Homo sapiens: one gene and its partners. The protein of the gene in region 1 purifies or fractionates together with the protein of each later gene. This does not show direct contact. Each region holds a gene or a part of one and is shown in the gene's direction. Other genes may lie near its edges. The genes, in order: ZNF485, ZNF512 and ZNF346.

The links.
Region 2: the proteins of ZNF485 (region 1) and ZNF512 purify together in Homo sapiens (affinity purification with mass spectrometry; one large-scale study listed by BioGRID and IntAct). This does not show direct contact.
Region 3: the proteins of ZNF485 (region 1) and ZNF346 purify together in Homo sapiens (affinity purification with mass spectrometry; one large-scale study listed by BioGRID and IntAct). This does not show direct contact.

Annotation. Positions count from the first base shown.
Region 1 is NC_000010.11:43,604,840-43,609,263, forward strand, and holds the start of ZNF485 (zinc finger protein 485), read left to right. Parts: upstream 1-1,598; 5' UTR 1,599-1,707; exon of another isoform or gene 1,708-1,724; intron 1,725-2,157; 5' UTR 2,158-2,211; coding exon 2,212-2,235; intron 2,236-3,774; coding exon 3,775-3,901; intron 3,902-4,394; exon of another isoform or gene 4,395-4,415; coding exon 4,416-4,424. UniProt on the Homo sapiens protein: May be involved in transcriptional regulation.
Region 2 is NC_000002.12:27,620,977-27,623,804, forward strand, and holds the end of ZNF512 (zinc finger protein 512), read left to right. Parts: intron 1-176; coding exon 177-485; 3' UTR 486-2,241; downstream 2,242-2,828. UniProt on the Homo sapiens protein: May be involved in transcriptional regulation.
Region 3 is NC_000005.10:177,043,053-177,046,704, forward strand, and holds part of ZNF346 (zinc finger protein 346), read left to right. Parts: intron 1-674; exon of another isoform or gene 675-1,164; coding exon of another isoform or gene 1,165-1,167; intron 1,168-1,336; coding exon 1,337-1,481; intron 1,482-3,652.

The DNA of each region.
Region 1 (4,424 bases):
CGCTTATCCAGCAATTTCTGTCACTGTGGCGACAAACTTCTGCCCATTCCAGAGGGTCTTGAACTGCTCAGGAACTGGGAATTCATTAAAGTCACCGCCTTCTGTAGGAATGAGGACATTCATCTCAGAAGATTTGGCACTGGCTATTTCACAATCCAGGGAATTCTTGCTCAGGTAAGCATGGCAGCCATCTGTTTTGTTGATGGAAATGGTTGGCACTTTACTCATCACCTGAACTTTGACATCCCTACTGTTGATTATCTCCACAATGCCCACCATATCATCGAATACCAGACCAAGTTTCTTACAATTATCTACTGTAATGGAGTTAATTTTGCCCTTGATTTGCAACATCGTGTTGACACACTTGTATATGTAAGCCGCCTGTTTCAGCTCTGTGTCATCAATCACCAGATTGGAAACATTTTCCTGATTTTCCACTCTCCACTTCTTGCCCTCCAGTTCAAGTACAGCTGGCTCCTTCTTTGTGGCTGGTTTGGGGTTTAGGTGCAGAGAATGGCTTGGGGCCACTGCGTACTGGACCACTCTGAGCCTTCAGGGTAGGGTTCTTGTGAGTCTTCATGTCATCAGATACACGTTTCAGGGCATGTGTGATGCTCTCCCCCTGATTAATCTGCGCAAACAGTGCTGAGAGGGAAGCGGACTCATCTGAGCCTGAACTGACAGAGACTAGTGGAGGAGGGGGGCCTGGTGGTGGGGGAGGAGTAGCTGATCCAGCAGAGGGTCCAGATGGCAGTCCACTCAGTTCTTTTGTCACAGGCCCCGTTTTGCTCCAGGCAGTCCGGTGGTATGGAACTCCTTAATGTAAGCCTGCAGCTCTGTGCATATACTTAAATAAGCTTTGACTCAGTCTACATGCTTCTTATCCACATCTTTGTACTCTTTAAGGACTCAGTTTGTATAAAACACAGCAGCATGATTCATTTCTTTCACATAAGGGCCAGGATTGGGAGCCATAGCCACCCAGCCTAGGGCCTGGATACTTTCACTGACAGCTGACAGCTGATTAAACAACTTGCTGCCTCGGTTCTTCTCCCAAAAGGTTATCACTTCTTTGATCTGCTCTGAGATAGGTGCCAACAGATCGGAAAGCTTATTACCTGCCGGCTATTGACACTGAGAAGCTGTAACCAAGAGAGCTCACTCCAACTTCAAAACTGTGTGTACCATCTCCACATCTTTCTGCACGTCTTCCCCAATCTCTTTACTGATCTTCAAGTACTCTGCCACAGGGCAGGCAAGCAGCGAGTCAAATGCCTGCGCATATGGAGCTGCTCCTGCTTTTGAAGGACTATCTCCATATCCACGGTGCATGTCAGAGGTATGGGATACTGCCTCCAGGCGGCCCACTGCCCTGTCCAATTTTTTACCAGATTTTGCATGTCAGTCATAATGTATCACCTCCCGACTGCGATCAGCCGCTCTCCACTTCCCGCACCTTCACTTTTCAAAGATTCCCAGGTGATGCCAACCTGCTCTGCGGATGGAGCCCCTAAGACCCCAAGCGGCCCAGACTACGTTTCCCAGAGGCCTCCGCGGCCTCAGCCACTTCCGCTTCCGGTCCAGCCTGTCTCCGCGTGGTGCGAGCGCTGCACCAGCCCCTGGCTGGTGGTTACTGTCCGAACGGCGTGGTGTGGTCGCTGACTCTCTGGGCGTGCAGCTCCGCAGCCCTGCCGGCTCGGTTCGGTTCGTGAGCGGCCGGGGTCAGGCTGGGTCCCTGAAGCCTCGAGCCCCTGGCGGGTGCTCCCCGCCTTTCCCAGGGGCGGGTCGAGGGGCGAGCCGGGGTGGGAGGGGAAGGCGGCGGTGGGCAGTGCCCACCCGCAGTGGCTGCGCCGTGTGGAGCGACCGCTCGAGGCTGGTGCATCACAGAGCGCTCCAGCCTTGCGCCCCGGCCGACAGATTGGGCCACTGACAAGGCCGTCCCCCGGTGCTGCCAAAAGTGTTTGGCGTGGAGCTGGCTGCAGTCCAGGCCGGATCCCAGCAGCCGTTCCCTTTCCTTTCTTCCCGAGCGTACCCACCTGGACCTGTCTGCCCACCTGTGGAGGGAACGGGCGGGCGGGGACCTGGTCTAGAGGGCAGATTCTAGCTAGGCTAGGGCACGGAGGGACTTCCTCAATTTCCTCTCTTCTTTCCCAGATTGACTTACGCAGGATTCTCAGCCCTTGCCTGGGAGAACAGTTCAGGAGACAGATGGCCCCAAGAGCCCAGATCCAGGCAAGTTTGATTTTTCCATTTCTTGAGAAACCACGTGTTTCAGCGAGGTGGGGTTTATGCCTCTTGCCCGGACAATGCCCTGCCCTGTGTGTGGACAAAGCTACCCGAACCAATCCTGGATGGGTCCCGCGATTTCCGTCCTGTCTACCCATTACGTAGTCATTCACCAAGTAGATTATTGCTACCCATGTTTTCTAGAGTGCTAGAAACAGAAAAGTGCTTTGCAAACTGGCAGACGATGAAAAAAATACACGTTAGCATGTAAAGACGTAGGCCATAAAGACATAGGGTGATAGCAGTGCTCTCTTGACCTTTAGTGTGTGGTAGGGTGGGAGGGGTGGAGTAGTGGGCGCCTTAGTTCTTCCTGAAGAATAAATGAGATTTGCATAATTGCAGAGGATACTAGGGGAAAGCGCTGCCTGAATGAAGTCATTATGGCGGGACCATGAACAAACTGGTCTGAGAAAGTTGGAAACATTCATGGTCTAGAATCCCAGACTGGAGTTTGCTTTTATCCTGGAGAAAACTAGGTTTTGAAGGATTTTGAGAAGCTGATTAAATAATTGGTATTTTGAAAGGAAGTGATAAACATTTGAGTGTCTATTATACAAATAAAATTAAAAAAATTAAAGATCACCTACATTTCTACTGCTCTAAGTCAAGTAATTTCATTTGAAACACACTTTTCATTTTTTTAAGGCTTACTCATTTTTTCTTTTAGTATTTCATAGCCATTCCAATTTGTTCTAGTTTCATTACCACTTTTTGTGGCTTCCTTTTATACTGTGCCTTCAACCAGCCCTGGGACCTTGAGCAAGTTCTTCCAACTCTCTGAACCTTTGTGTCTTTAGCTACGAAATAGATTTTACTTTATATAGTTACGGCAGAAATTTAGAGAGATGATATGTATCTCAGGGTTTAGCACCGTGGCTGGTACATAGTAAGTTGTTACTCTTATGAAAAGCAATTTTTTTTTCTTTTTTAAAAATATTCTGCCCCAGAGTCAGATCATACTCCCTGTAAATTCTCGGATAAAGCTAATCACTTTCCATGTCTTTTCAAAGTTTCTATTCATTTGTTGATTGAATAAAGCTTGAACACTTCTGTGTCAGGCAGTGTTTTTGACTGGGAGGCAGCAGTGACCCACACTGTCCCCCTGGAGCTCACATTAGAGAGGATGCTGACAGTCAGTGCAAACCTCTCCTGCCAGGTGGTGAGAAATCCTGTGAAGAAAAGTGAAATGGGTTTCGAGACTGAGTGGCAGAGGATGGGGTGGAGAAATAGAAGACCTTTTTGATGAGGTGACATGAAGGGTGGAGTGAGCAGAGGCTAGGCCTGGAGGAGGGAGCAGGACAGGCATGCAGGAAGAACCTGCTCAAGGGAGGAGTCGCACATCCCCTGAGCCCTCAGCTTTTACTTGTTGGTTTCCATGAGCACTGTTGGAACTGTCAGAAGCTGGCTTTGACCACCTTGCTTCCTTCTCTTGGGATGCCTCCCTCAGGGGTTCCCGGATGAGCAGAATTGGGTTTGGTTTTGCAGGGACCGCTGACATTTGGGGATGTGGCTGTGGCCTTTACCCGGATTGAGTGGAGACACCTGGATGCTGCTCAGCGGGCCCTGTACAGGGATGTGATGCTGGAGAACTATGGGAATCTGGTGTCTGTGGGTGAGGATGGCTTTCTCCTTGACTCAGGATTGGTCTGCTGGGCAACTTTGTGTTTTCACAGGGTGAATGGTTTGGGGTATTGAAAAAATCTTAAATGATGTGCTTTTTGTTTTGTTTTTCTTAAGTATGGGCTTAGAGGCTGGAGTTTATGCCCCTTACACCCCTCAAGAAAGGTCAGAGCCATACAGAGTTAAGATGGGTAGCTTTGTGGTGCCAACTAGCCCAGTTCTGGAATGTTTCTGTGTCATGATTCATCTGCCTCCCAAAATAGGAGTTTCTCGTCCTCCAGGAGGACCTGGTTTTCTAGTTGACTTTGCCCCCTCCCTTTGCTTTACTTCATGAGTTGGACATCCTGGGTGCCACCCTCTAGGCCTCTCTGACCTGTCCATGCTCATTGCAGATGCTCAAGTTGACACTGAGGTCTGGAGTGACTGCTTGTGCTTGTAACCGCCATCACATTCCTTTTCATTCATTTTTTTTTTCTTCCTCTAAGATCCTTTTTCTTTATGAACAGGGCTTCTCT
Region 2 (2,828 bases), on another chromosome or scaffold:
TGCTCTGTGTTGGATTTCTCCATCTTAAAATATAGAATCCTGAGGTATGGTTCCATATCTGTTTCCTTCTTACTGTGTTCTGCCCTAATCATGCCTTTTTTCCATTCTTCCTCCACCTTTCTTTATGTTCTTCACTATATTTTCGACTGGATGACATTTCTATTTTGCCTCTCTAGGACTGGTTCGTTGTAAACCCAACAACAACCAAAAGCTTTGAAAAGCTGATGAAGATAAAGCAGCGGCAGCAAGAAGAAGAAAAGCGGAGGCAGCAGCACAGGAGCAGAAGGTCTCTAAGAAGGCGGCAGCAGCCTGGCATTGAGCTTCCCGAGACAGAGCTGAGTCTTAGAGTAGGGAAGGATCAGAGGAGGAATAATGAGGAACTGGTAGTGTCAGCCTCCTGTAAGGAACCAGAGCAGGAGCCAGTGCCAGCACAGTTCCAGAAAGTAAAGCCCCCAAAGACTAATCATAAACGAGGAAGGAAATAGGCAGTCAGTGTAAAAGTGCTCCTAGGAAAGCAGATGTGATGCTGTTGTCACGGGGACCTGTGCTGGGAGGACTGAGTGAAGATTCTTTCAGCTGTTTGTGTAAGGCTGTGACTTTCTCAGCTCCTTCCTCCTGTGTAAATTTCACTGTCTTCCCTTCTTACATTTTGATTCCCCCCTCCCCTTTTAGTAGGTTTTCCTGCTATTCCTCGTCAAGTCCTCTTGTTTTTTTATCTTGCCCAAAGAGCTCCCTCTCAAGGCCAACTATAGGCTCCTCTTGCCCTGTACAAAACTAAGAAACCTCTTTGGTTGTCCTTTCCTTCCTGGGGTATAGAATGTTCTTGGAAGCTCCATTGATTTAGTAGCTGCTCCATCATCTAGCTTGTGAAACCATTCCAAACTAATTTTTTAAAACCATAACTGATTTGTCATTTTGTATTTGTGATATAACAAGTCTAGAAGTTAGAACTGTTGTCATTCACATAATAAGATTACTCTGTCTCCTTGGGAAAAAAACTTTATGGAGGCTGTTTGTCCTCTCAATATGGTTTTAAGATTGAAAGTAAGAAAACGGATTTAGGATGAAAACTCTAGAACTACCCTATGCTGTTTATACTGGGAAATGCTTTGTACCAAGTAGCAGTGACTAGACCCACAGACATGAAAAGCAACCTTAGGAGTAAAGTGACCCAAACATTAAAATGACAGGAAAGAGAAAGTAGAAGCAGCAATAAATACTGCCCCAACTTTCCTGGAGCCCGAGGCCTCATCCATAGCTATGATCACTTGCCCTCTGAAGCTTATTTTTGCTTCTTTGGTTTTAAGAATTGAGAAATATCACATTGCCCCTGATGTTTTGACAGTCTCCTAGTGCTCCTGGTAGTGCCACTAAGGGAAAACCAAGGTGCGCATTCCTTCTCCCTGGACTTTACCTTACTTGTTAGTCTACGCCCCACTGTTTCCACCCATCCCCTTAGCCAACCTCTGTCTTTTTGAATTTTCTGAGAATATTGTCCTATCCTCTTTTATATATGGAGTTCTCTCCTCTTTATATCCTGAGACTTTGACACCAGATGTAGATATTTATCTGGAGCTGGAAAGAAAAATTCTTTTTCTGTACCTCATGCCTATCTGGTAATGTTTAATGGGTTATTTCTCTTTGAGGGTGGCTTTCTCTGGAACATTGGTTAGAGCAGCTTTGTTGTCGTGTTTCTGGATTCTCTTCCCCATTTTGCGTAAATATTGGTCTTATATATTCTTGCCTATTTTGTGGCATATGCCACATAAAAAATGAACCTGATATAGACAAGTACTACCTTTTCAAATTCTGAAAGGCTATTACCACTTTAACTCTTTGTGCTCCTCCAAATAGCTTTAAAATGTGGGCTTTTGTGAAGACCACTTTCAAACAAGGGAGCACTGAAACCTGAATTGGATACTGCCAGAATAGGTAGTTTTGAAACAAGTTAAGGACATGGTATATGCACTCTGCATTTTCATTGGCAGTGTGCCCTTAAAGCCCTTTCAGTAGATGAGGGTTGTCAGGGAGGAGAAATGAAGAAGCTATGTTAATTTCTGGTGAGTAAGACCTGGGGAATGTTTGGCAATGACAAAAGAAATAAATGACTCTCAGAAAGATGTTTCCAGTGTTCTTTGACGCCGACCTGCTGCATGACTCCTTGACACTGTATGGGGGTAAGAAGATGGCTAGAGATGGGGGTGAGTTTGAAATAAATTCCACATGCAGTTGTCTCAGTAATTCTTTGGTTCATGAATTATGCTGGTTAAAATGAGTAGTTTGAGATTAAAGTGAATTAGTATAGGAAACTTGCCCAGTTTCATCCAGGGACCTCTTGCAGGCATTCCTTTCGTTTTTCCTGACCAAGACCAGGGATCAGCAGGACTCAGTATAGACTATTCTAATCACAGTATTGAGTTTTAAAGTTTTTTTAAAAAAAATTCATTAGACTAACAAACTAAGTTTGACAGTATTATGAACTTTCATACATGGTTTGGAATGCAAATTGGTACAATCACTTCAAAAGTGATTTGGCAGTATCTAGCAGAGTTGAAGATATGTACCCGAAGACTTAGCAGTTTCTCTCCTGGGTATACACAGAGTAACTCCTTTTGTCTAGGCGTACCAAGAGACACAAAAAAGAATGATTATTGCAGTACAGTTTACAGTAGAGAAATACTGAAAACAAGTATCAGAGATCTACTTTCACCTTTGCAAATTATGGGATTATAGAACAAATGGCTAGACTGTATATTTCCTAGTTATCCCCCTTCCCTCCACTCTCTCTAGTGAAGGAGAAGCCAGCTAACTCCTCTCCCATGGAATGT
Region 3 (3,652 bases), on another chromosome or scaffold:
GGTTGGCCAGGCTGGTCTCAAACCTCTGATCTCAAGTGATCTGCCTGCCTCAGCCTCCCAAAGTGCTGGGATTACAAGTGTGAGCCACTGCGCCCAGCCGCCTGGCTGATTTTTTAAAAAATTTTTCGTAGAGACAGGGTCTCGCTTTGTTGCCCAGGCTGGTCTCAAATTCCTGGTCTCAAGTGATCCTCCCACCTCAGGCTCCCAAAGTACCAGGATTACAGGTATGAGCCACCACACCTGGCCCTTTTCTCACAATTTATAATTCAGAAAGGCAAGATAAACTCTATGACCCTGGGCAAGTTATTTTACATATTTGCACCCTATTCAGAGATCAGGCTTTCTGAGAGAGATGCTGGGATCCCTTTATGTAGTCTTGAAATACATGGTTTCCTAGCCTAATCATAATCAACAAGTAGAACGCAATGGGAGGCTGGGTGCGGTGGCTCATACCTGTAATCCTAGCAATTTAGGTGGCTGAGGCAGGCGGATTGCTTGAGCTTGGGAATTCGAGACCACCCTAGGCAATATGGTGAAACCCCGTCTCTATAAAAAATACAAAAATTAGCCGGGTGTGGTGGCATATTCCTGTAGTCTGGCTACTTGCAGGGGTGGGTGGGAGAATTGCTTGAGCCCTGGAGGTGGAGGTTGCAGTGAGCCGAGATCGTGCCACTGCACTCCAGCCTGGGCAACAGAGTGAGACCCTGTCTTAAAAAAAAAAAACCTAATGGTCCACTTGTTCAGCAAACTCTGAGCATCTACTGTGTGCCAGACTCCAGCTGGGTGTGAAGGATAAGAAACAAAAATGAGTCAAATAGTCCGTGTTCCAATGTCACACTTGAGTTCACAGAAAAGTCTCCTAAGCTATGACACTGTCAGTTTAGGGTGGCAAGTGGTATGACAGAGGTCTATTTAATGTACTCTGGGAGCACAGAAGAGGAGCAGGGTTAATTCTTCCTGGAATACACAAAGGGACTTGACAGTTGTTTACTGAATGATGTTTTTTTTTTTTTGAGAGAAAGTCCCCCAGAGGAAAAGCTTATATTTAAATTGGGTCTTGAAGGCTAAGCAGACACGCTGCCAAGCAGGAAAGGAAGGAAGCACATTTTAGACAGCAGGAATGGCCAAAGCAAAGCAAGGAAGCATCAGAGAATAAAGTGGGGGATGGTGAGTAGAGTCTGGGACAAAGTAGCTGGAGAAGAATCTAGAAAGTAGGTTGGGGTTAATGTGTGAGGGGGGCCATAAATGCCTGTTCTGTTATGGGCAGTGGGGAACCATTGAAGATTTTCTGGTGGGGCAGTGGTATGATCAGACCTGTGTTCTTTCTTCCAACCAGAAGAGCAGCAGAAGCAAAGACAAGAACCAGTGCTGCCCCATCTGTAACATGACCTTTTCCTCCCCTGTCGTGGCCCAGTCGCACTACCTGGGGAAGACCCACGCAAAGAACTTAAAGCTGAAGCAGCAGTCCACTAAGGTGGAAGGTACTGGTTTTCCTGAGTAGTGCTATAGTGGGACCCCTGCCGTCCTCAGGGCACTACTGCCAGGGGCTCACAGAGATCCTCACTGAGGCCACAGACTTGAAGAAGTTGAATTGCTTTTGAGAACCCTTAAAAATCTCCAAGTAGACCCAGCTTCACTGAAATGCAATCTCAGAATTATGCTCACCTAACCTCCCTTTCTTTGGTTATAGGTTTTTCTCTATAGGCTGAGCTTTTGTCCTGACTAATAATTATAACTCAGGAGTGCCAAAGTCCTCCAGGCCACGCATACCATGAGAGCATTCTATCTCCTACCTCTCCCACTAGATTTTTCCATCCCAGCATCCACCTGCCCTTATTACTGCATGTTCCAAGTTGAAAGCTAAATCCTTGTCTTTTTCACATGCTCAGGTTATGGCCTACTCACTTTAATCCTCAAAAGCTGCCTGTTCTCCTCAAGACAGGGACTTGCCTTTCAAAGCTGAATACTTCAGTGCTGCTACTACTGCCCCACAATCTGTAACTGCCATGAATTCATTCCCAGTACAGTGACTTCTGAAATAGCCCCCTTTATCTCGTCACGACTAGGGCTCAGCCCTCACTTTCATCTCATTAACTCCTGACTTTCTGGGGTTTTAACCTCTGCTAATTGCAATTAGTCAAGAGTGAAAGTTCTTTGATGTTTATTTCATTGTTTTCTTGATAATTTTTGCTTCTCTATTTTGGACCAAGAAGTAGACTACACTATTAGTAATACTATTATCCTTTTTGTGTTTACTGACAACTGTGTTTTGGAAGCCTTCAAAGGTAGGGTGAAAAATCACTCATAATTTTTTTTTTTTGAGATGGAGTCTCGCTCTGTTGCCTAGGTTAGAGTGCAGTGGCATGATCTCGGCTCACTGCAAGCTCTACCTCCCAGGTTCATGCCATTCTTCAGCCTCAGCCTCCCAAGTAGCTGGGACTACAGGTGCCCACCACCATGCCCAGCTAATTTTTTTGTATTTTTTAGTAGAAACGGGGTTTCACTGTGTTAGCCAGGATGGTCTCAAACTCCTGACCTCGTGATCCACCTGCCTCGGCCTCCCAAAGTGTTAGGAATACAGGCATAAGCCACCACGCCGGCCAAAACCTTTTTTTTTAAATAGAGATGGCTTCTCACTATATTGCTCAGGCTGGTCTTGAACTCCTGGCCTTAAGTGATACTCCCATCTCAGCTTCCCAGAGTGCTGGGATTACAGGCATGAGCCACCACACCTGGCCACTCATAATTACACCTTTTTATCACACCCACATCTAGTTATTCATGGTATGAAACAGCAGAATGTGGACTTTGAAGTCACAGAGTCCCAGGTTTAAAGCCTGGCACTGTTACTGTTTATATGACTTTTTTGTGTCTGAACTGCCTAACCTATAAAATGATAATAATACTGTCTACTTCATCGGTTGTGAGGATACAATAATGTGTATTAAAAACACAGGACATAGGCCGGGCATGGTGGCTCATGCCTGTTGTAATCCCAGCACTTTGGGAGGCTGAGGTGGGCAGATCACTTGAAGTCAGGAGTTCAAGACCAGCCTGGTCAACACGGTGAAACCCAATCTCTACTAAAAATAACAAAAATTAGCTGGGTGTGGTGGCACGAGCCTGTAGTCCCAGCTTCTTGGGAGACTGAGGCAAGAGAATCGCTTGAACCCGGGAGCTGGAGGTTGCAGTGAGCTGAGATCGCACCATTGTACACCAGCCTGGGGGACAGAGCAAGACCTCGTCTCAAAAAAAAAAAAAAAAAAACCAATTTTATAAGGTCACAGACTTCTCTTCCCACAAATGGGAAAATTCTCTGCATTATGCCTTGTCCCTGAAATTTCATACTCGAGATTATTTTCCATATTCACTTTCAGCTTTTGCCACATACTTTGTTTTTATATAGTTGTGATCATAATGCAGGTACCCTTTATATCCCGCTTTTACTTTTCATTTAATTTTACAGCTTAAGCACATTTCCATGTTATTACACAACTTTATAACTATATTTCTGAAATTAAACACTTTTTAATGTAAAGTAATATAATCATGTTGTAAGAGATAAGGAAAACATGGATAAATGGAAAGAAAAGTTACCCATAATTTTACCATTCACAGATAAACACTGTTAACATTTTGGTTTCTCCTATAA